Regions from separate parts of the Homo sapiens genome. Here all the other regions are linked to region 1. The links come from fine-mapping of genetic effects on gene expression. Tissue or cell type: whole blood. Region 1 holds a variant in brackets; each other region holds the start of a gene. All regions are shown on one strand. Distances are between the middles of the regions.

Region 1 (8,109 bases):
TACTTGGGGGGCAGGGGTGGAAAGGGGGAATGAAAAGTGTTAGTATCACATATTTTTATGTTTGTTTTTGCAGATGAGATAAACATTAAGATTATATTAAAATTCAAAGGATGTTAGAATAGAAAGGAACCTTACTGATGATCCACAATGAAGATAATTGCATATTCTGGCCTGGCCAGGGCAGTCTTATTTTACACTCTTTTTACAGAATTATTGTCAATAGCTCCCCCTGCCTTTCTCAAAAATGTCCTGATTTAGATGGTAAATCAAATATTTTTAAAAATAATTTCTCCCAGTGTACTTCCTTAATATTTTTAAATATTTGAATATTTAAATATTCAAATATTTTAAAATATTTTTAAAAATCAAATAGATATGCTATGTATAAGAAAAGGCCCTCTGTACCAATAGAGAATTAGTTAAGTAACTTCTCTAAATTCAAATGACCAAAATGGAATGGTGAGCTCTTTGAGGGCAGGATTCTGTCTTGTCATCTGTTTCTCCATGGCTGATCCAGGTAGACAGGTGAACATATGACTAACTGCTAAATTCCCAGGCCATTACTTTGTTCACTTTGTCATCCTACTCTCTCTAAGTACAAGGCTGATAATTTGATAGAAATTGCTACACTTTGTCATCCTACTCTCTCTAAGTACAAGGCTGATAATTTGATAGAAATTGCTACGGAACCTGTGAATTTCAAGAAGGGCAATAAAACAACACTACTTTTGAGCAGCCTAAGTTATTGCAATTAACAGATGAGGAAAAAATTGCTCTGAATGACTGTGGAAATTATAGCCTACTCTGATCTCCTTCTAAAAGGAAAATTCACTCTTCCTTCACATCTGCTTAAGTCTATTTCTAGCTATATGCGGTTGGGGGACAACTAGTTGTTTCTATCCCCTTGTAATGCAAGAGTGTGACCAACTTGTTTCCAGGCTCAAAGTACTTCTGCTTCTACTCAAAAGTACTAGAGTTAGAATTAACTTGCCATAGCAATAATTTTTCTGTTTAGAACTGAGGATGACAATGAATAAGTTAAACCATTTTTAGTTTCTTCCTTAGAAACTAAAATTGCTTTATAAGTAAAAATTTTATCATGATTAACCTTACCAATTAATATGTATTTTAATTTTTATTTATAGTCATGCAAGAGTAGAAAAAGAAATTGTTTTAAAATCATGAGCTTAGTTTCCATAAAGCCAGTACTCTAATTATATAAATTTGTTAATGGTAATAAAAGCCATCTTATTTCCAGCTAAAAATAAAGGGAGTTTACAAAAACGAAGTAAATAACTTAAGTTTGCATATTAAAGAAAATTTATAATAGAAAGTTTGCATATTAAAGAGGATCTCTTGAACTCTCTTATACAGACAATTTGTTATACCCATTAAATTACTGACCTAGTTTCAAATGCCCATAAGGACTGCTAATCCATCAGTAAAATAGCATTGTGCCAAAAAAAAGTGTGCATTTGCAACTGCCACCCAGTCATTCTTCTGGAAAATAATTTACTTATTCATTAATAATATAAACCAATGCACGGATAATATAATTTCTAAGATAAGTCCATCTTATTCTTTTAACACAGAAGGGAAATATTTGTTTCTCTTTTAGAAATTCCTGATACTTTAATAATTTATTTCTATTGGCATATATCCTGACAAGTTTTTATAATGACTTCAAAGAATCAATAAATATGGATGAGTATACACTTTGGAGATTATATATATATATATATGCAACTTTTTTTGCTAATCACTGATTTATATTTAATATATAATCAGTGATTTATATTTATATTTAACACATTTTTTTCTACAGAAAGATAGTGTCTCCTTTTGGGGCTAAAATTGAACAGTAATTTAAAAGTGATTATTATCCCCTATGAATTTATAATTAACTATTTTTATAGACAAAGATGGTATTAGATGCATTATCAATAAGTTAGGCATATTGAAAACTATTTTCTAGTGAATTTGTGCTGACTTAATTACTCTACTAAAAAACTCTGTCAATTACTTTTCTGATCAACACCATATGTGCAAGATTCTTAACTAACATTAAGTAGTAGCCTATGATTATAAAATAAAGGGTAGGCAACTAGCTCACATGAAATAAACCCACTAGTTCTTACTACCTCTTTCATCTATGAAGCTGACATAAGTAACCAAAAATCTCTCTAGTTAACATGATCATAAATTTAGAAAATTATCATAAAGAAAACTATATAGTAACAGAAATAAGAACATATCAACTAAATGTACATTATCTCTATGTGATTTTCATGCTCGTACAATGATGTGCACTGGATTATACGAAATAGTAATACGCATAGTAATTCAACAAAAGGACTGAGACTGTTAAAGAAACAAATATTTCCCTTTATTTATTACATCTACTCATGGGACATACATAATAATCAAAATTTTCAATTTACAGGCCTATAAATAATGCTATTTAACTGAAAAGCAGCCAGCAAACAGCAACATATACATGTATTTGAAAAGCTTACTCATGGAAAGTAATTTCCATAGCAACTCAGTTTTGTAGAATGGAATGATAAATCAAGAACTATCAGCATTTAAGAATCAGAAGAGTACTGAATTTGCCTTACTCCTTTGCCAGCTGCACACTGGTAGGCTTTGCTCCGATAGGTATCCCGTATTTGTGTAAAGTGTTAATCAATATCTCCCTCATGTCATTGTTGTAGGAATCAAAGTCAAACACATTTCGAACTACACTGGAGAGACCTTCAGTCGGAAATTTCTGTATTAAAAAAAAATTCCCTTATTATGCATGTGATAAAATATACAACATTATAAAGATTTATGAAATGGATAGGACAATAATGATCAAATGAACTACAGCAGAAATTTACTGGCCTTGTCAAATAAGCAGGTAGTAGGAATGTAGACATTTTTCCCTTTCAGTGTTTGCTCAGATGACTTAACAATATTTTCCTTTTTAAATAAATGCCAGAATTTGAGGGGAAAGAGTTCCTCCTCTCAAATGTTAGAGCAGTGCCTAGATCCTGGTGTCAGTGATTGCCACTGCTTTCTGAAATCTCCTGCCTTTAATATGAGTACCAGATCGAACAGTTTAAAAATGCTAGTTATGTAAAGGAGCGTGTTAAATATCTATACTGAAGTTTTCAGAAAAGTCAGTCTATGAATAAATGAAGAAGAAAAGATAAAGCAACAAGAAAAGAAGGAAAGAACATAAAAAGTGCAAACAACAGAGAAACAGGGAGCAGTAGAGGGCAAGAAAACAAGTATGACTACAACTGAATTTACACTGCTCATGTCCTCTGAGTCCTTTCCTGGGTCTGCTTTGATTTTCTTTAGGTGATGGGTTCTGAGCTGGCTGAATTGGACTTACGGTTTTATAGGCAGAACAAAGCTGTTATTTTTAATCTTGATTTCTTTCCATATATTTTTAATTGACAAATAATAACTGTATATATTTATGGGGTACAATGTGATATTCCAATGTATGTATGCCTTACAGAATGGTTAAATCACACTAATTAATATATCTATCATTTAACACACCTTTATTTATGGTACAACCATTACTTAAAATCTACTTTCTCAGCAATTTCAAAATATACATTACATTGATATTAACTATAGTTACCAGGCTGTGCAATAGATCTCAAAAACTTATTTCTCCTGTCTAACTGGAACTTTGTATCCTTGGATCAACATCTTCCCCTGTGTGTATTCTCCCTGCCCCACCTTTCTACTTTTCTTTCTAGGGTTTTCTTGGAGGGTTGGGGATAAGGCAGAGGTCAAGAGTTGTTGGGTTGTGACTGTTAGCTTGGAGACCCTTATTTGTTCTGTAAGTAAGATTTATATTATTTTTTATTTGTTTGTTTTCTTTACTAAGGTGGAGTACACATTGTACATGGTCGCAGGAAATTTCATTCTCCTGCCTACTCTATCTTGTGAAACTTCCTTGCGGTATTTACAGGTATTTAATCAGTACGGTTAGTTCCTACTCTGTTTACTGTTGTCTCCATGTGATTTG[C/T]TTCAAAATGAAAATATTTTTTACCTGCATACCACATGCTTGTTGTAAAAAGCCAAAGAACAGAACAGGAAGGTTTCCCCACTGACTCACTCTCTTGCTTCACCTGCCCTCTAACAGCCTCCCACCAAATTTCCTAACTCCTTGGTAATGATTACAGACTTTGCCAAAGTTAATTCAAAAGCTGAACAGATAATAATGTTCATTGGCCTACCATATTTATAACTTAGATTATACACATTTCAAATCATGTAATCTGACTCATTATTGTATTTATGGAAATTAAAAACTCTGGTACAAACTGTACAGTCTGAAAAAATAAAAAAGAGAGTGATGGCTCTTAGGTACAGGTGTGTGCCATACCTACCTGTAAATGTTTGACTATGTTGACAACTTCTCTGGTAGAATAAGGATAGTTAATAATCCCTTGGTCAGCCAAACTCCTCAGCTCTCCAAAGGCAGCCACAAGCTTCTGAAGGATGGGCTCAGGCACATTTGGTCCATACTGTCTGAGCATCTCGAGCTCCGAGTGGGGTTTGGGGTTATCAACTGCATGGCAGCTAAAAATATCACCTAAAGGAGAGAAAAGATTCACATTCAGTATGCAACAAATCCATTACGATGTCACAGGAAAAAATGGAATGGTTGTTTAAAGAGCCACTGGTTGCTCATCAAAGCATAGAAAGCCCATCCAACAATAGGATGGTACAGAGAAGAAAGCAAAAGACTGAAGCAAAAGAAAAGAAAACTGGGTGATGGATGGTTTATCTCCACGAATTTATTTTTGTTAAAAAACTTACATAATACTTGAATACATGCTCACCGGGAGATATTCCAATACAAAGAGGAAAAAAAATTCTCCTTTAAGTCTATGCCAATGCCACTCCCTCCCCAAAAAGCACTGAGTCTTAATGTTTAGCGCATTTATTTTTCCAGACCTGTATTAGCACTTTTTTTAAAAAAATGCATACATGCAAACAGAGTTTAGATAATTTATTCCTTTTCTATTAATGGGAATATATATTTCAAATGGTTCTGAGACGGCCTTTTTAACTTCAACAAATGTTGAGTATCTTCAAAAATTATATACATCTATCTCATATAAATGCTTCTTTATGTACTAAAAAAGGGAGAATTAGTAGCATCACTCTCTAAAAAATTTGTATCTTGTGCAGATTGATAGAATATACTTTAGAGGTTAGTTTTGGTAGAGTAAACCTGTAGAGACATTGTCTGAATTAAAATCAAGAAAAGGAATGTAGAAACATAATAATATTTCATCTGTAATTTAGGGAAATGAGAATGTACTAGAAAAATAATTCTATTGATTCATAATCTAAGAGACCAGGGATCAAATGAAGTAAAAGTAAATAGACTTACATTATTTAATATGTTCATTTTAGAAAATGAGGATATCTAGTAAGGTAGCAATAAGATCTTACTTTGATTTAGGAACCATTTGAACAGTTATTTTGTATGTGTGTATTTAAAAGCAATTGAATAAAATGAAAGCCATGATATCTTCAAAATTTTATCTCATATACTAAAGCTTTTCAAATACAAAGGTGAAGAATGGCTTTTGCCTTTTTTGCTGAAAATAAAACCTATCACTAACATAAAAAGACAATTGACCCCTCATTCATTTACTCATCAAATAATGATTAATTAGGACAGTAGAAATGGTGATGCTGGGGGAGGTCAGTCAGGTAAACCTCATGAGAAGGTAATATCTGAGCAAATGTTGATACCTGGGGGAAGAGCATTCCAGGCAGCTGGTACAGCTAATCCAAAGAACTTAAGGCAGGCATACCTGGCATATGGAAGGAAGAGGCAGGAGAGCAGAGTGGATGGAATAGAGGAAGTGGATAGAGCAGCACCAAGCAGTACAGGACACGAGGTTACAGACATAGGAGGATGTGGGAGACATACTGTGTAGGACACTGCAAACTGTTGTAAATACTTGTACCTCTACTCAGAATACAATGGGAAGCCATGGAGGATTTTAGCAGAGGCGTGGACTACTGTGCTGTGAACACACCACAAAAGGGTGTAGGAAGATAAATATCTTGTGAGCAGAGGCACTGACCACATTGACTGTATTTCCAAGAATATCTGAAGAGCAAACAGTGCAGCCTTGGAAAACATATTCTCTCTCTCTGTCTCTCTCTCTTTCTTTCTTTGTAAGAAGGTAATTTGGGTTACCTAAGCTCTGGGTTCCTCTTCTATAAGGCATCTCACTATAAGTGCAGGTATCATTTGGCCCTCTTTCTGTTGCCCTGTGGGAAGTGGGGCTTGAGGAACCAACACAAATGCTGGTACTTTGACTACTGCTTTTGCTGAATAATCATTCCTCTTTTGTCTGTGACTCAGGAGTCTAGTGTCTTCTGCCATGAAAGCCTTCTGTGGCAGGCTAACTTGTTAGCTTAAAAGTAGAGTAAACTCTTAGATCTTTCACAGTTCATAACAAAGAATAAGGCTGGAAGCAGGGCGACCCATTAGGGGACTATTTGAAGTAATCCAGGTAAGAGACGATGGTGGCTCAGATCATAATGGTGGCAAATGGAAGTGATGGGGAAAGTAAGATAATTCTGAATATATTTCGAGGGTATAGCCAATAAGATTGCAGGATATTTGGAAAAGAGCATAAGAGAAAGAGAGAAACAAAAAATGAATTTGGAGTTGTCATTAACAGAGATTTACAAAAGACTATAAATTAATCAGGTTTAAGAAAAAAAAGTTCATCATGGACATGTTAAATTCGAGATACAGGAGCTATTGAACTGGAAGCTGGATATGAGTGTGAAGTTCAGGAGGAAGGTCTGGGTTGGAGATGAATATTTGGCAATAACAGGCATATAATTGGTAGTCTAAAACATGACACATTCTGATTTTATTAAAGGAATGAGTATAGATAGGTAAGAGAACCAGGGCCTGAGCCTTGGGACATTCTAACAAGCTCCAACAAATAAGGCTGAGCAGGAATAGTTATTAAGGTAAGAAACCAAGAACATACTTGAAGAAGTATTGTAAGTCAAGTGAAGGAAAATGCATCAAGGAGAAGAGAGTGACTAACTGTATCAACTATATACTATATTAAATACTGCTGGTAGATTCAGTACGATGAGGACTAAGAATCAACCACTGGATTTAGCAATAGAAAAGTCACTAATGACCTAGATAAGAACAGTTTCTGTGGAGTAATGGGAGCAAAAATCTGATTAGAATGGAATTAAGTGAGGATGGTACAGAAGAAACGGAGATAGCAAGTGTAGACAACTCTTTTGAGTACAAATGACTGTGAGGAATTTTGTTACAAAGGAGAAGAAAAAAGTAGCAATAGATCGCAAAAAGAGTAAGATTAAGAGGTTTGTGTGTGTGTGTGTTTTGAAGATGAAGGAAATAGCCTGATTGCAGATGGGAATAATGTAAGGAGAGGGAAGCTGCTGATACAGGAGAGGGAGGGCAGAACAGCTAGAGCAGCAACCTTCAAAAGGCGGGATCTGGTGCTCATCTGGAGGGACTCCCTCTAGATGGGAATGTGAACAGTTTACCTGCAACAAGTGGGAAAGCAGGGCATCATAGGTGGAAGACTTGGTTGTAGGAGTCTGTGGACATTTGTTTTTAATTGCTTTCGTTTTTCTCAGTGCAGTAGGAAGACAGGAGAAAATAACAGAAATCTAAAAGAAAGTCAGTAAACTGAATCCTGGTTAGCAATGGGGAAGGAATGAGACTGGTGGGAAAATGAAAGAGAATTTCCCTTTCCCCTCCATAAGCCCTTCTATATTTCAATCTCTTGCAGTAAGTGAATGTTCAAGTATTGTATAATTTTAAAACAAAAAGAAATTCATGCAGCAGTGTTGGAGCTGCGAGGAGAGAGAAGATATGAATTACCCTAGGAGAACAGGAAAGTGAAAGGTCTACCGAAGCACGGTGTGACTGCATTTAGGGACACTTGAGGCCCATTGTTAAGAATCTGAAATGAGATTGGTCAGTTTTGGGCTTTTTCTAACCACATTCAGCTGCACATGTGTAGGTTCAATGTTGTTAGAGAGTTGGCAGTAACCAACTCTCTCCCTCTC
Region 2 (8,109 bases), 330 kb after region 1:
GATGACCATATGTATATGCAGTTAATATCACAGTTAATCCCCAAATCTTTTTCATTCAGGTAACAACTAAGGAAATGGTAATAGGTTAAAAGTTTCGAATGTTAAATTCTTAATATGTAGCAAATAGCGTGTTCTTAAGTTTTAATTAAGGCAGCTTCTCAATGCCTGTACTTGGTCAACCTGCAGTATTCTTTGCATGGTTCCTTATTGATTAGGAACACAAGTCCTAGAACACTTTGAACTCTTCAGGATATAAAATGTAACATTCTGCGTATTTATGGCGTAATATTTAAGATAAAGCCATAGAATATGTGAGATTTGAAAGTTGCCAATGGGTATAAAACCCCTTTTGTTATGAGTAGTGATCAGTAAAAATACAATTCAAAATACCTCTGTAGAAAATAATACACGAATATTCATAAAGTTGACATGAAATTTGGCTGTGACTTACACATCTTCAGTCTAATAGGTGTTCTTTGTTTTAATGGGCCAGGATCTCTATTAAGTAAAAACCTAATTTAGGGGTAGCTACCACCTATTTCCATTTCACCCTAAATGCAGTGTCTACACAGCTTATGTTGAAGTCTTTAATAGTGTGTTTGTCACATGTTCTGAACAGAGATTTCAAAGTAACAATAAAAATGTAAGATGCATCTAAGCAATTACTGAAAAATCTGAAATCACTAAGTAAGGAAAAGATCAAGGAATTCTTATAAATCAAATAAATAATGTAAGATACCACATATTTGAAATTGTTTCAGTTGCTATTTTGAGCTACATGGTTGAAATGGTTGGAAAGATTGAGACCTTGACCTTGTAATACTCTTGAGGAAGGTGAAGTACATTGCAGGTACACAGTGCACAAATTAGATATTCATTCTAAAAACTTCTAATTTACAGATAAGACCGAGAAGAGGCTAGTAAGTCAGGTATCTTAAATAATGGATTCGTTGAAACTGGCTCTTCAGAAGAGGTGATTGCAGAAGTGCAAAGCTGGCTCTGAGGTTAAATCTTTATGAGAAAGGAATACCTTTACTTTGAGGTATTAAATGGCTCAGCTCTGGGATATGAAACTTTTTAAGTATCTTTAAGCAATCAGTGTTCAAATCAAAGAGTGAGATGCGTAATCTGACCTGTTAAAATCACAAAATCAGGCTGGGCATTAGATAATGCCTTTCAGTTTAATCACTCGCTGCCTGGATTCTGGAAAATGTTGCTATATAAAACACATAATGTATGAATAGAAGTATATGGTAACTGACAGACTTTTGTTATACAGTGTGATAAAGTGAATAGAACATTAGAATACTAACCGCATGATTTTGACTTTGGTCTCAGTTTGTCAGTTGGGGCCTTAGTTTCTTTACATTAAAGGAGAAGACTAAACTAAGTTTATTCTTTCAAAAGACCCTTTACTAGGTGTCCTTGTCTACATTTCCAAAATATTGGACTTGTCCATGACCAAACAGGTGGGAATGAAGGCCATTATTTTGATTATTTTTCTCTTTTAAGAATTTCCAGAAATATGTTCTTTGTAGATAAAGAATTACATATTTGTAGAGTTCTAAGCGTTCTTAAAATTCATTTTGCCCAACTCCTTCCTTTCCTAAAGGAGACAACAGAAGCTGCAGAAATAGCCTCTCTGTTATTATTACATAGCAGCAGTCTCCTGTCTTTAAATATTTGAACTAAACACATTTTACATTTTAATGAATTTAATTTACAGTGTGATGTCCAGTATTGGGATTGCATACTATTTCTTAAAACTTCTTAGAACTGTTAGCTCTAATATATCAAATTTCTTGTTGGGAGTAAGACTGCAAGTTAAAAAAAAAAATTAGAACCTTAGTTTGGAGGAACCTTAAAGGTCATGTCAACTGAAAAAATACGAAAGGAATGGTACTGAAAGGCATGAACATAACAGAGATTGAATGCTTTCTCCAGGTGGAGAGACTCCACAGTCTGGCAGGGACTTTTTGTCCTATTTAAAAATATAGCTAACACCAGTTTGGTGTTCTCTTTGGATGACAAGAGGGATCTGTCGTTTTAATGTCTTCTCTCGCAGCCCCCTCACCGCAGCCCCCTCACACCTGTGAGGCTTCTTTGACGTTGAGCGTGCACAACCCGCTGCCAGTCCGCGGTTCCCAAGTGCCCGCGCAGCCAGCTTGCAGGGGAGTTGTGCGCGGTGGCTACAGCCTGTTGATCCCACTTCCTCCTGCTCTAGTCCGGGCTAGGGAGTGGCTCTGCCAGGACTTCCAAGGCTTTTTGTCTCGGGTACTGGTGTTCGCATGGCTCGAGTGTATTGTTTTCTTCCAGGCAATCTCGGTTAGCGCTTCAGCTTAGACACTTCTTGTGCGTTCTGTCGTCTTGGGCTGCGTGTAGTCTCTTGTTTCTGCGCTTTCTCCACGCCCTTCCCAGTTTCCTGTTAGCCGAAGGGGATCGCTCTTTCTGAACGAAAAGTTCTCAGAGCGGAGCTGAACCTCCCGGAAAATGCTCTTCTCTTCCGTGTGCGCCGGATGGGGGTGGGGGTGGGCCAGAAACTGAACGCCGCCGTCAGGAGAGCTGAGGGGACCCGACGGCCCTGGCGGAGGCGGGAGAGGTACGGTCCTCGGAGTGGGGCTGGGGGTGGGGAAACCGACGAGGGGCAGCCCCCGACTGTCTTGGTGGCAGAGGGGACTTTTATTCAGCTGGAACCGCGCGGCGAGGCCCAAGTGTCTCTGGAGAGATTCGGGGTTCAGGAGGTGGCGGGTGCACCCAAGGGTGCTGGGAGGAAGCTCCAGGTTCCCATTCTTCCCCAGGGATCGGCGTTGCCCCTGCTGTCCAGAAGTGAGAGGGGGTGTGCGGGCATCGCCACTACGGGGTGGGCTGCAGAGGTTTCCTGCCTCCCCCACCCTCCTGTCCATCCTAGGGACCCAGACCGTAAGGGAGTGGAAGAGATGTTGCTCCAAACCCTGTCACCCCATCCTCTCTACCCGCGCTGGTCCTATCCGAGGCTGGGTGCGCAGGGGTCCGAGGCGGGCGGGGGTCCGTTACCTCTGCGTCCCACCGTGGCCGCCGCTCCGGCGGGAACCGAGCGGAGGAGCCGGGTGGACCCCTGCCTGGAGGGCGCCTGCCCCGGGCGACCCTTACCTCGCGGGGGTAGCTAGGGAAACGGAAGATGGCGGCGGCGGCCGGGCACGGGGTTCCGGGCTCCGCTCGGGCAGAGCCCACCCGCTGACCAACGCCGCCGCCCCCGCCGGGCGGTGCTGTGTCCCCGCAGGAGTCGGAGAGGATGGCAGGGGCCGGAGGCCAGCACCACCCTCCGGGCGCCGCTGGAGGAGCGGCCGCCGGAGCCGGCGCCGCGGTCACCTCCGCCGCTGCCTCGGCGGGGCCGGGAGAGGATTCGTCTGACAGCGAAGCGGAGCAAGAGGGACCCCAGAAACTGATCCGCAAAGTGTCTACCTCGGGGCAGATCCGGACCAAGGTAGGGCGGAGGAGGCGGGCCTGAGGGCCGCGTGGAAAGCGGGAGGTGGAGAGGGCGCGGGGGCGCTGGAACGCGCCGGGCGATCCCGGGAAGGCGGGGAAGGCGGGGAAGGCGGGGAAGGCGGGGAAGGCGGGGAAGGCGGGGAAGGCGGGGAAGGCGGGGAAGGCGGGGATGGTGAGACGGTGAGGCGGGGCGGGGCCTGGGGCGCGGGCGGGGCGGGGAGGGGTGGGGCGGGGCCCGGGGGCGCTGGACCGCGGTGCTGCGGGACGGATTCCCGGCGGCTGCGCGGGAGGCTGCGAGCCTGGGCTCCCAGGGAGTTCGACTGGCAGAGGCGGGTGCAGGGAACCCGCGGCTCGGCGGGAGCGTGGGAAAAAGCTGACGCGCAGTCGCGAGTTCCTACTTAGGGAACTTAAAAGGAGAGTTTCAATTTTTCTTCCCTGCCGTTCGGGGGAGCGTGCGCATGTGCTGGCCAACCAGCCTGCGCTGCAGTGAGCCCTGCTGCTTTCCCACTTAGGCCCACTCAGAGGGTGGGTGGAAGGTGACACCGGTCAGCCTTTCCTGCCCCTCTGCCTCCTGCTGCGGTCTGGAAGGCAGAAGCCCCGAGGCAGGCAAGTGGGACATGGTGTTCGCGGCTTAACCGCACCCTGCATGGCTCCAAGGGCTGGCCAGGCTTTCGTGTCGCAGGTTCCCGCCAAGTGCAGGCAGGGTTCAGAACCATGCGTCCATGGTTCTTTTTAATAATGAGAAGTTACCTCTGTGCTGTGTGGACATTAGGATGGTGTGTTACTCTTGTTAATGAAGCTTGTGCTGTCGACCTGTGAGGTCTCAAAGTTAATTTTTAATTTGATCATGAACATACCAAAGCAAATGCTTATGGATATTAAAGGATTTTTATGTATTCTAATTTTCATTGTAATTTAAAAATCTTCACAGAGAGAGTCTGTTATCAGTAGGGAAATTTAACGAGGATATTGAAAACGGAACCACAAAATCATTGGCTTGGGGTACCGTTTTTAAAAATAAATTTGCAAAAAATTCATTCTACAGTTATTTTTATGAAAAATTTTCCCTAAGGTCAATGAACTCCTATTTGGAAACATAATTTTTATTCAGTGCCTGTGGAGGCCGGTAACGGTGGCTCATGCCTGTAATCCCAGCACTTTGGGAGGCCAAGGCAGGCAGATCACTTGAGGCCAGGAGTTCCAGACCAGCCTGGCCAACATGGTGAAACCCCATGTCTATTAAAAATAAAAAAATTAGCTGGGCTTTGAGGCGTGCACCTGAGATCCCAGCTCCTCGGGAGGCTGAGGCAGGAGAATCGTTTGAACCCGGGAGGCGGAGGTTGTGGCGAGCAGAGATTGTGCCACTGCACTCCAGCCTGAGCGACAAAAAAAAAGCTAGTGGATTAATGTTTGTAGTAGCCTGCCTCCTTATTTTCTGAAATACATGTGTGTAAGAACAACACACAAGAACAACTGTTGACAAGATGCACTTACTAAAGAGTTAGGGATTCAGTCACTTTAGTTAAGAGTACATCTTGTAACTCCTTTTAATAGTGACGTTTTTGAGTTTGTAGTAAATTAAGAATATGGCATTTAATGTGTTTTTTAAGATTAAGGCTTTTACAAAGTTAGGGACTTTCCTAAAAGTGTTTTTAATATTTCAAATCTTAATTCTGAAAAAAGTTCATAAACTGTGTTAATGATGGGCAAAATGGCAGGTAAAAAAAAAAATTGTATAGGGGCCGGGCATGGTGGCTCACGCCTGTAATCCCTGCACTTTGGGAGAACAAGGTACCTGAGGATCACTTGAGCCCAGGAGTTCAAGGCTGCAGTGAACTGAGATCTTGCCATTGCACTCCAACCTGGGCAATGAAGCGAGACTGTCTCTTAAACAAACAAGCAAACAAACAAACAAACGTGTATGTTACATATTTATATGAAATGGTCAAAATTCCATGCATACTTATATCAGGATTAACCAGTAGATTTATACTGTTCGAAAGAAAACTGAGAGATGGCTCTAAATTGAATTGAATCATGTCAAACAACAAATTTGTTGGGAGTACCACTGTATTTTATAGGTTTCATGCGCTCGTTGTAATAGCTAAGATTATATGCTTATGGAGACTACAAGTAAATTTAAAAAGCACATTATTTGTGATTTTCTATCTGACTTTCTAATAAAAACATTTAGCACATACATTTTGCCATGAGAGATCATTTTTGACTATGAAATCAAATATTGCTTGAATTTCAAAAGTGTATTGAATGTCAGAAATTCAGCATTTTACAATTTCTCCTATGTTAGAGTGCATGTAAGTTCATCAACATTTTCATATATGAACACTTGAGATCAGGGTATAAGATTCTGAGACCAGTGAGCTTCAACCTCATACCCCGCCTCCTGCAACTGGACTGTTCATGTATGTCACAGACTTCATTATTTACGTCTTTTATCACATATACTGATTCTTGGGGAAGAAAGTGAGAGCAATAGGGGGAATTTATAGAATGAGAACTACTAAATTTAACGTTGGTTCCCAGTCTTCAATTATGATTCAGATGAGAATTAAGGAAGGATCTTTAGAAAAAGACAAATACTTTCTGTGTCTCCGCACAGGTGTGTAAGATGGGAGCACCTGGAGGAGAGGTAGGCCCTAAGATTAGCTCAAAGCCATCTTTTTTTTTTTTTTTTTTTTTTTTTTTTTTGAGATGGAGTTTCACTCTTGTTGCCCAGGCTGGAGTGCAATGGTGTGATCTCGGCTCACTGCAGCCTCCACCTCCCAGGTTCAAGCGATTCTCCTGCCCCTGCCTCAGCCTCCCGAGTAGCTGGGATTACAGGCATGCGCCACCACACCCAGCTAATTTTTTATTTTTAGTAAAGATGGGGTTTCTCCATGTTGGTCAGGCTGGTCTCGAACTCCCGACCTCAGGTGATCTGCCCACCTTGGCTTCCCAAAGTGCTAGGATTACAGGGGTGAGCCACGGCCTCAGCCCCAGTCATTTTTAAGACAGCACAAGCAGTTCTTGCTCATCTATCCTGCTTTGTCAGTAGGTCAAAACTGGTCAAATATGGAATGCTTCATATGGTTCAATCTAATATGTCATCATTTAACCAGTTTTTTGCAGAAGTAAATATGGGTTGTTTTAGGACAATGCACTAATCTCAGCTTTTTCATAGTGGATTTGATGGTTTTTAAGTAAAGAATGGAACTGGTATGCTTTTGAAATCAGTGTGGCTTAATAAAATCCTCATGTGTATTTTAGCACCCTCATCATAACTCCATACAGTATACTTTTTGTTCCCCTTTTCATTTTCCATTTATTCCTGGTTTCTTTGTATGTCTATGCTGTCCTCTCTACTATTTTCCTCTTCCTCTGTTTTGAACTTTTTCCTTTCTCTGAATAACCTAAGTGGAATTTCAGGTGGTCTCATCTAGCCACTCAGGTGCTAAACACTAAATGATTTTATGCCTGCCTTTATTTCCCAAAGACAAAAAGTCACTTATGTACAAAAGTGAAAGTGGTGCTGATGCAGGAAAGCCAAAATGGAGTCCTAACACTTGTCATATCTCTTCCCCCTCTTTACCTTCTTGAGTTTTTGGATTTGCATTCAGACATACTGTTGTAGAGAATTTCACAGGTATTTACTGAGAATAAGATATTTTTGAAACAACGCTAATACAGATTCAGACAAATTGGGTTTTGAGGATGAATGTGAAAGAAGCTTTGTGTGTTTTTTGTTGGCCCATGAATACTGCAACCTTTCATTTTATGGGAATGGCTGGAAGAAACTTGGTCAGGCTTACAGCCTAGGATTGTTCAACAATCATAAACCAAACAGTATAAACAAATGGGAACCATCTCAATGACTTTTTCTGCCTTTGGGTCATCTCGGCTAAGGTTGTGAAGCTGCATGTGTCAAAAATACTCCTGATGAGGTTTATTGTGTTCTCATTTATTTTTTATTTTTTGACATTTATATGTCTTCTTACAGCTAATGGCCACAAATGAGTCTCTAAATTTAGGTAAAACATACCTAAACACTAAAAAGATATTCAGAATTTTGCATCAACATTTTATCTAGGCTGAGGGCGGTGGCTTATGCCTATAATCCTACCACTTTGAGAGGCCAAGGTAGGACAATCAGTTGAACCCAAGAATTCAAGACTAGCTTGGGCAACAGTGAGACTCCATCTCAAAGAAAAAAACAAACCCAAAAGAAGACCAAAAAACACACCAGTATTCTATCTGGATTAAGATATATTTTTGGTGCAGCAAACCACCATGGCACATGTATACCTATGTAACAAACCTGCAGGTTCTGCACATGTAACCCAGAATTTAAAGTAAAATAAAAAAAAAATCTTACTACTACTACTAATTATATATATAACTATATATATAACTATATATAACTATATATGTAACTGTATATATATAACTATATATGTAACTCTATATGTAGCTATATATAACTATATATATAACTATATATAACTATATGTATAACTATATAACTATATGTATAGAACTGTAACTATACATAACTATATATAACTATATATGTATATATATAACTATATATGTATATATATAACTATATATGTATATATATAACTATATATATGTATATATATAACT
Region 3 (8,109 bases), 240 kb after region 1:
TTATAAGCTTACCATTGTTCTGAGCCTTTCTGTTAAATTCTTGAATACACAATGGGGTCAGAATATCCTCAGGGTCAAAATAACCTGCTGCAGGTTTAAAGTAGTTAATAATTTCCCCAAGGTTCAATACCTGATAAATACAAAACTTAGACCAAAACCACAGTATAGTTCTTTCCTCTTTACACTGTATTTCTCAGTTGAAGCCACAGTTCTATATTTCCCCTCCTCAAAGTTATTTCTATCTAATCCTATTGTAGCCCAAGGATATAATCTTAAAATAACAAAAATTCATGTAGATGGATGTTTATTGCATTGTTTATATATTTTAGACAACATGAATGTGCAAGAATGAGACAGTAAAATAAATTATATGGACAAACATATAAACTTAATAACTACTTTAAACAATCATGTACAATGATATTTATTACCATGTTAATATGTTCACAATAATGGATGTAATAATTATAAAACATACATGATCCCATTTCTTTAAAAAAATGTATCTGTATAAATATACATATCATCCAGGCACAGTGGCTCAAATCTGTAATCCCAGCACTTTGGGAGGCAAAGATGGGCAGATCACTTTAAGTCAGGAGTTCGAGACCAGCCTGGCCAACATGGTGAAACCCCATCTCTACCAAAAATACAAAAATTAGCTGGGGTGGCTCATATGGTTTGCCTGTGTCCGACCCAAATCTTGTCTTGAATTCTAGCTCCCATAATCCCCATGTGTCATGGGAGGGACCCAGTGGGAGGTAATTGAATCATGGGGGCAGGTTTTTCCTGTGCTGTTCTCGTGGTAGTGAAAAAGTCTCACGAGGTCTGATGGTTCTATAAAGGGGAGTTTCTGTACACAAGCTCTCTTACTTGCCGCTATGTAAGACGTGACTTTTCTCCTCCTTCGCCTTCCACAATGATTGTGAGGCCTACCCAGCCATGCGAAACTATTGAGTCCATGAAACCTCTTTTTCTTCATAAATTACCCAGTCTCTGGCATGTCCTTATAGCAGTGTGAGAACAGATTAATACAGTGGTGCACACCTGTAGTCCCAGCTACTTGGGAGGCTGAAGCAGGAGAATCGCTTGAACCCAGGAGGTGGAGGTTGCAGTAAGCCAAGACTGCTCCACTGCACTCCAGCCTGGGTGCCACAGCAAGACTCCATCTCAAAAATAAATAAATAAATAATTATACATATATATGTAATCTGATAGGATTAATGCTAAAAAGTTGATAATTATAAATTTGGGTGGGAGGATCATGTTTTAGGGAATCTGTACTTATCACTCTTCTATAATAAACATAGATTGCTGTGTAAAAGTATTTTAGGGTATTTCTATAAACAAATTTACTTCATATACAAGAGTCATAAAGAAAAAACTGTGAATCCCTTTAATAATAATGGCGTTAAAGGAAAGCACCAAAATGTCATGATATATTTATACAGTTATGTTTCTAGGTTTATCATTTGATCTATAGTATATTTGAATCCATTTAACATCAGAGTCCCACTGAAACAACTTGCTTGGCTCCATCTGTAAAAACACTACAATAATCTTTATTGAAAACTCTCTGCAGTAGATATCCTTGTTAACCTCTTTGCTCTTAAAACCAAGAGACAGTAATTTTAATGGAAGTATAAAGAGATATAAAGAATTTACAATTATAGATACTTATACTATCTGACAGCACAGGATAAAAAGCAGTGGGTTTGGGTTGAGTTTATCTGCTTGTTTTGTTTTTAACATAAATGACCTATTTTCCTTCTGCTTATCAGGCTTAACAAAGGTCCTCTCTTGAGAGCAAACGACAATTCCAGCCTCTCCTGCTCCTTCTCTGTATGAACTTTCACAAAATAAGCCACTGAATGCTTACTAGGTACAAAGTGTTGGCAGGCACCAAACGAATATATAGATAAACAAAACAAATACTCCAGGAGAAATAACAGCAGTATATAACTTAAATATATTATTTATGAACTTTGTTGTTCTTTTTTCAAACTATTAGGAAGCAATGTCAATTACAGAGAGAGGAGATAATCAGTTACTGGTCACATGTATGAATGCAGCTGAGAGCATCATCCCAACATAAGATGTAATCCATTATGGCCTATTGCTATTTGTAGTTTTACACTTGTCCATGTATGATCTCTGATTCAAAATGGGACACTTCCATCTTGATAGCCTTACTCTCAGGCCTCAGAGTAGCCAAAAGTGTGCTGTCCATTTACCTGGCTCACAACTGCTCTTACTCAAGTCCAGATCTCTGGTGGGTTCCCAGCTGCATTCAGTTACAGTTCTCACACCCTCAAAAAATACCTCTTTTTGGTCTGATCCTGCCAGAGTAAATGACTGATTTAAAGAAGATAGTATGTTCTCTGTAATATGTCCATGACTCTCACATTTGAAGCAAAGCCTATACTTTGATTTACTGGCTATAACAAAATTTGAGGACATTTACAACTTATCTACCAATACGTATATAATACAGACTTTAAAAACTCACACCCACATGTGTTTTTACAATCAACATGTATTATCCATGTACAAAGAACAATTGTTTTTTAAAAAGTTCAAGTCAATTCACTCGGCTAAATCTGCCTACCCAGATAGTCTGAACAGTCCTGAATCTAAACAAACTTGGTTTCATGTCTTCTAAAGGCAAGGAAACAGAATAATTCTCAAATAGCTAAAACTGTACATACTAAGAATAAAAAAGCTAACTTTTATTGAGCATTAATATGTGCCACAGATTATATTAATTAATAAATCCTCACAACAACCATAATAGATATATTCTTCTTATCCTTTTACAGTTAAGAAAACTAGGACACAAAGTTAAGTAACCTACCCTCAACGACCCATGGTTAGATAGTGGATAAGTGGATTCCAACCCAAATTGTTTAACTCCAAAACCCAACCTATAGTTTATGCTATACTTCCACCTTTGACCTCTGCCTTCTAGGGCAAAGGAGCAAAAAACAAATAAAGAACACACAAAAAATGTAAAAAACAAATGAATAAACAGCCCAGAAGTGAGAGTAATTGAGAAAAAGCAAAAAAAAAAAAAAAAACAAAAAGTAAAATTTGAAATTGCAACACTATGGTGGGGGACGGGGGTGGTGTATGTCTTCAATGAATAAAACGAAATACGTGGGACCTAAATATGCTTTTTTTTTTTTTTTTTTTGAGATGGAGTCTTGCTCTGTCGCCCAGGCCGGAGTGCAGTGGCTCCGGTCACTCCAAGCTCCGCCTCCCGGGTTCACGCCATTCTTCTGCCTCAGCCTCCGGAGTAGCTGGGATTACTGGCGCCCGCCACCACGCCCGGCTAATTTTTCTGTATTTTCTTTTTAGTAGACACGGGGGTTTCACCGTGTTAGCCAGGATGGTCTCGATCTCCTGACCCCGTGATCCGCCCGCCTCAGCCTCCCAAAGTGCTGGGATTACAGGCGTGAGCCACCGCGCCCGGCCCATATGCTCATTTCTTAGCAAGGAAAACTGGGGGTTGCGGGGAAAATGCAAGAGGACAACGAAACCTACAATTTCATAGTGAAAACCTGTTATTCCAAGCAGCACTGACATTGACAAAATCTTGTCTGGAATCACTTCACCATTCAAGGGTAGCAACAACAGATATCCTTTCCTTAACCATCACAGTAACTCTAACTCCACCAACACACAAGAAAAAGAATTCCTAAAACCAGCTCAAGTAGAGCCAAAAAATACTGAGCTTAGAAATCAAAGCATGTGATTCTAGCATAGTAATTAGTTGTGTGTTCTCCAGCGAATCACTTTTCCCTTCTGGGTTTCAATTACCTCATTTGTAGAGGCAAGTGTTTTAACTAAATTAAGGTGTAACTGTCAGCTCTAAGAATTACGTGAAACTTTAAGGAAAACTCCTGTAAAACTTGGAAAGGCTCGGGGATGCATTTAAAACACCGTGAACTATGGGTTCTTTGGCAAGAATGTTCCCTTCTAAGCCGCCACAAGCCCTGGCTAGAACATGACACAGACCGGCTTCCAGGCCCTTGAGGCTCAGAGAGCAAGGTCAAATCCAGCTTTCAATAATTCCATAGGGCTGAGGCATTAACCTCTACGAGTATTATAACCTAAGTCAGAATTCTGGGGGTAAAGGCAGCGGCAGGGGAAGGAGAAATCACTCTTCTAGGTCATCAGAAACCTTAGTCCAGACCCCTCGGGTTGCAGAATCAGGCACAGAGAGGGCGAGCGCCTTGCCCCCACGTTACACAGCAGTTAGCGCCGAGGTCGGGACTAGAACCTCAATCTTTCAGCTCCCCGCTCGGCAAACGGTCCTTCCAAGCGCAGCGAAGCAACAGAGAGGAGGGGCGGGGGCGCGCGGGGACCCGGCACGGAGCGCAGGGGCACCAGGGAGGACAGGGGCGCACCCCGAGTTACCTGTGTCGGCCCCCGAGCCGGCGTGCAACAGTCTGACCTCCGGCCGCTGCCTGTCGCCACCCGGCCTGCGCTGCACCACCTGCCGCAGGAGCAGCCGCATGCGCCGCGAGGCCGGGCCGCCGTGGCCTCCGGGTGCCCCGAGGAGTAGAAGCCGGGATTGCATGGCGCCGGGGGGGCTGTCGGGGACGGCGAGGGGGCTCGGGGATCGAGCGGCGTCCCGTGCAGGCACCGTGAGGCAGCGCGGAGAAGGGGACAGGAAGCGGCACCTAGCCGAGTCCGCCGGAAACTCCTTCCCCCGCGGCGCGGCCGGCTCAGTAGACTCAGCCCGGCCCTACCCGGCCCTGCATGGCCCAGACGGGCGGAAAGAGCCTGCGGAGCTCCAGCCCAAAGAGCCGGCACCGTCCCGGGACTGCCCGCACCGCGGGGGTGCTCCGAGCTGCGGCGCTGGGCTCTGGCAAGCGCCTCGCAGTCCGTGAGACTGTCTGTTCACCTGGATGCACCAGGCCTTCACCCGCCGTTTCCCTGCGATCCCACAGAATCTCAGGAGTTCAGTAAATGCCAAGGGTTTTAGGAGCATTTGTCGGTGTGACTCTTCAGATGCTTGCCCCAAGTCTTCGTTTCTTAGTTAAAGGCCCAGTAAGTATAGGGAGCTTTCCCTGTATTCGGCTTCAGATTTCGGAAATGGAGAAAACATGCACAAGATGATGGGAACTTTCACAACTGTCTTGATTCATTGTAACCACACTAGTGTTTCCAAACCGTACGTGAAAGCTTTACCCTTTGTCCTTTTGGTGGTGGTTGTTTGTTTCTGTGTTTTATTACCGCTTCCTAAATTCTAAGGAAAAAATTCACATCTTAGTGATAGATGGAAATTGCTTAAATATCAGAAAGGATCCAGATCAAGCACTTTTCTAGTCATGCTGTAATACAAAAGTTATATAAAGATGATTTATGTCTTTAGTAAAGGAAAAAGTAGGACACTGGCTAAGGCTGCCTCCCTCTTGTACATTCCAACATCGGAAATGGTCCTACCACAAAGCAAACTAAGCCTAATGTAATTAGACTGCATCCCCAAAATGTCACAGTGAATTGACTAAGGCAAAATATTTGAGACAAGTTATACAAGCAAACATCAAAAAGAAGGCAGAAGACCTCACTTTCAGCTAAAGACCTTGCTAATTCTAGAGCTGCCACTGTCTAAATACATAGCACCTACCCTGCGCCTGACCCTGTGATGAGTGCTGAGAAGAGAGTGTTAGAGTGGAGACTGTAAAAGTCAAACAAGGCTAGGTAAGGAAGGCTTTGGGCATCCAGCGGAAGAACTTGAGGAATGAAGGCTGAACCAGGCTTCTAACCTAGATGAGGAGACAGTGAAAATAAAGGTAATAAGTAGTTACACAATATATTATGACTTCGTTTCATGTGTATCTTCTCATTTAATCCTCATAGCAACCCTAAGACATAAATTTAGGATGTAAGCTTATAAAATGCTTTTCCTACTTTGAGCACATTGTATGTATCAAGATTTTAATGAATTATCCCATTTCACATAAAAATGCTTTGAGGTACTATTATTATCCTCCGTTTTACAGATGAAGAAACTGAGGCTAGAAGAATTGAATACCTTGGTCAAGATATCTCCATTTAATCTCGCTGGAACTCAGTAGACACCTGAAAGAATGGGAGAACAACCTAAGGCAATTTTGCAAAGTGGTTGATATAAGCACTAAGAGCTCTTGGAGTTAAGACAATGGAGAGATCAACACAAGTTAGAGCATTCAACAACATTTTTTGCCTAGTTTTATTTTTTTTAGAGACAAAGTCTCACTCTGTTGCCCAGGCTGGGGTGCAGCGGCAGTATTATAGCTCATTGCAACCTCGAACTCCTGGGCTCGAGTGATCCTCCTGCTTCAGCCTCCCTAGTAGCTGAGACTACAGGCGTGCACCACTGTGCCTGGCTAATTTTTGTGTTTTTGTTTTCGTAGCAGTGGAGTCTTGTTATGTTGCCCAGGCTGGTCTCAAGCTCCTGGCCTCAAGTGATCCTCCTGCCTCAGCCTCCCAACGACAACATTTATTGAGTAACTGCTGTATAAACAGTACCCTGCTAGATACTGTGAATCAATGGGCTCACATTAGGTATTGATGATAAATATGCAAATAAAGAATTGCAATACAGTGAGACACGTGTCAAGAGATTTAGGTTCAACATACTGTGGAGTGGATTGCTGCACCTGGAGTCTTCACAGAGAAGGTAGTGTTTGAAATGATTCATGTAGGATATATTATACAAGAGTTTGTCAGGCTGAGACAAGTCAAATCTGGCAGACAGATCATGTACAGAGAGAGAGAGAAAGAAACAGCTGAAAGTGCAGGGCATGATTGAGAACCAGAGAGTGATTCAGTGTGTCTAGAGGTCAAGTATATACAACAGTTTGTAAGAATAAGACCAGAAAGAGAATCTGGGGCCATGTTGTATGCCAAGAGAAGGAGTTTGCACATTAACCTCCAGGAAATGGAAAAATGGTGAAGGTTTTTTAGAGTGACAAAGCTACAATGGGGAGGAAAACTTTGAGCCTGAGAAAAGGCAGCACCTGAGCTTAACTTTGAATGCCATTTAGGACTGGATACACAGAGAAGCGGGGTATAGAGCCTAAGTAGAGGCTTGGAGTCCTGACAGAGTTCAGTTACAGGGGCCATGAGACCAGCCAGATGAGGAGGTTAATCTTTCGAAAGTAGTAGAAGGTGTTGGCAGAGCAGGAGGAGAAGGTTACAGAGTGAAGAATCTTGAGTAGCTGGATGAAGTTGGACTTCATCCGATGAGCAAACTGGGCAGCTACTGGACTTTTTGATCGTGTTTTAGGTGGTGACATACTATGAATTGAATTAGGAAGACAGGAAGCATCAAGTGCTAGCTACGTGGCAGTAAAAATAGTCTCTACTTGAAATGATGAACAGTGCTGATGGCAATGAGACTGAATGGGAAAGAATGGACCTTCACAATGTTTTTAAAGAAGAACCAAAGGTGTTTTGTTTTAAAAGATGTTCATCACAATCTGTGTAAAGTCTCTCAAACTCTCACTAAAATATCTGATCACATGCTTATTAAAAAACAAGCTACCAGCCGGGCACAGTGGCTCAAACCTATAATCCCAGCACTTTGGGAGGCTGAGATGGGTGGATCACCTGAGGTCAGGAGTTGAGACCAGCCTGGCCAACATGGCAATACCCCATCTCTACTAAAAATACAAAAATTAGCCAGGCGTGATGGTGGGTGCCTGTAATCCCAGCTACTCGGGAGGCAGGGGCAGGAGAATCGCTTGAACCCGGGAAGCAGAGGTTGCAGTGAGCTGAGATCGCACCAGTGCATTCCAGCCCGGGCAACAGAGTGAGACTCTGTCTCAAAAAAAAAAAAAAAAAGAAAAAAGAAAATCACACTACCAAAAGCTAGTATTGACTGTCAAGCTCTTTCCAGAGTTTGGGAGGAATATTTTTTACATACCACATTAATGTAACTTGATGAAAAATGCAACTAATAATCCTTCCATGCTATGTCTGACTGAAAAAAGGTGGGTGCTCCACTCCTCCCTACTGTCTACCCCAGCTAAGAAATCAAAGGTTCATACCACTGGTTCCCAGACTTTTGTGTGCATCCTAATTACCTGGAGAACTTATTAAAATGCAGATTATAGG

Which allele goes with the higher level. Positions count from the first base shown, and alleles are read on the strand shown. Sizes are in standard deviations (SD) of each study's normalised expression.
For the expression in whole blood of the gene that starts at base 3,146 in region 2, allele T in region 1 goes with a higher level than allele C (small effect, 0.25 SD a copy in GTEx).
For the expression in whole blood of the gene that starts at base 4,676 in region 3, allele C in region 1 goes with a lower level than allele T (small effect, 0.30 SD a copy in GTEx).

Evidence for each region. PIP is the estimated chance that this variant, and not a neighbour inherited with it, causes the effect.
Region 2: it holds the start of DGKH, and the variant in region 1 is fine-mapped to the expression of DGKH in whole blood (GTEx, PIP above 0.99).
Region 3: it holds the start of VWA8, and the variant in region 1 is fine-mapped to the expression of VWA8 in whole blood (GTEx, PIP above 0.99).

Annotation. Positions count from the first base shown.
Region 1 is chr13:41,716,973-41,725,081 of GRCh38, forward strand. VWA8 (von Willebrand factor A domain containing 8) reads right to left here. Exons shown (of 45, transcript NM_015058.2): 25 at 4,398-4,603; 26 at 2,619-2,770. Among named protein-coding and RNA genes, the nearest start is that of MIR5006, 150 kb to the left of the region's middle. The variant C/T (reference allele first, on the strand shown) is at 4,034.
Region 2 is chr13:42,045,503-42,053,611 of GRCh38, forward strand. It overlaps DGKH (diacylglycerol kinase eta), which reads left to right and starts at 3,146. Exons shown (of 30, transcript NM_178009.5): 1 at 3,146-3,463. The coding sequence starts at 3,272. RefSeq lists an enhancer at 2,293-2,382 and a silencer at 2,923-3,452.
Region 3 is chr13:41,956,434-41,964,542 of GRCh38, forward strand. It overlaps VWA8 (von Willebrand factor A domain containing 8), which reads right to left and starts at 4,676. Exons shown (of 45, transcript NM_015058.2): 1 at 4,420-4,676. The coding sequence starts at 4,582. VWA8-AS1 (VWA8 antisense RNA 1) reads left to right here and starts at 4,736. Exons shown (of 4, transcript NR_039974.1): 1 at 4,736-5,801. RefSeq lists enhancers at 2,909-3,409, 3,410-3,910, 4,006-4,145 and a silencer at 4,346-4,755.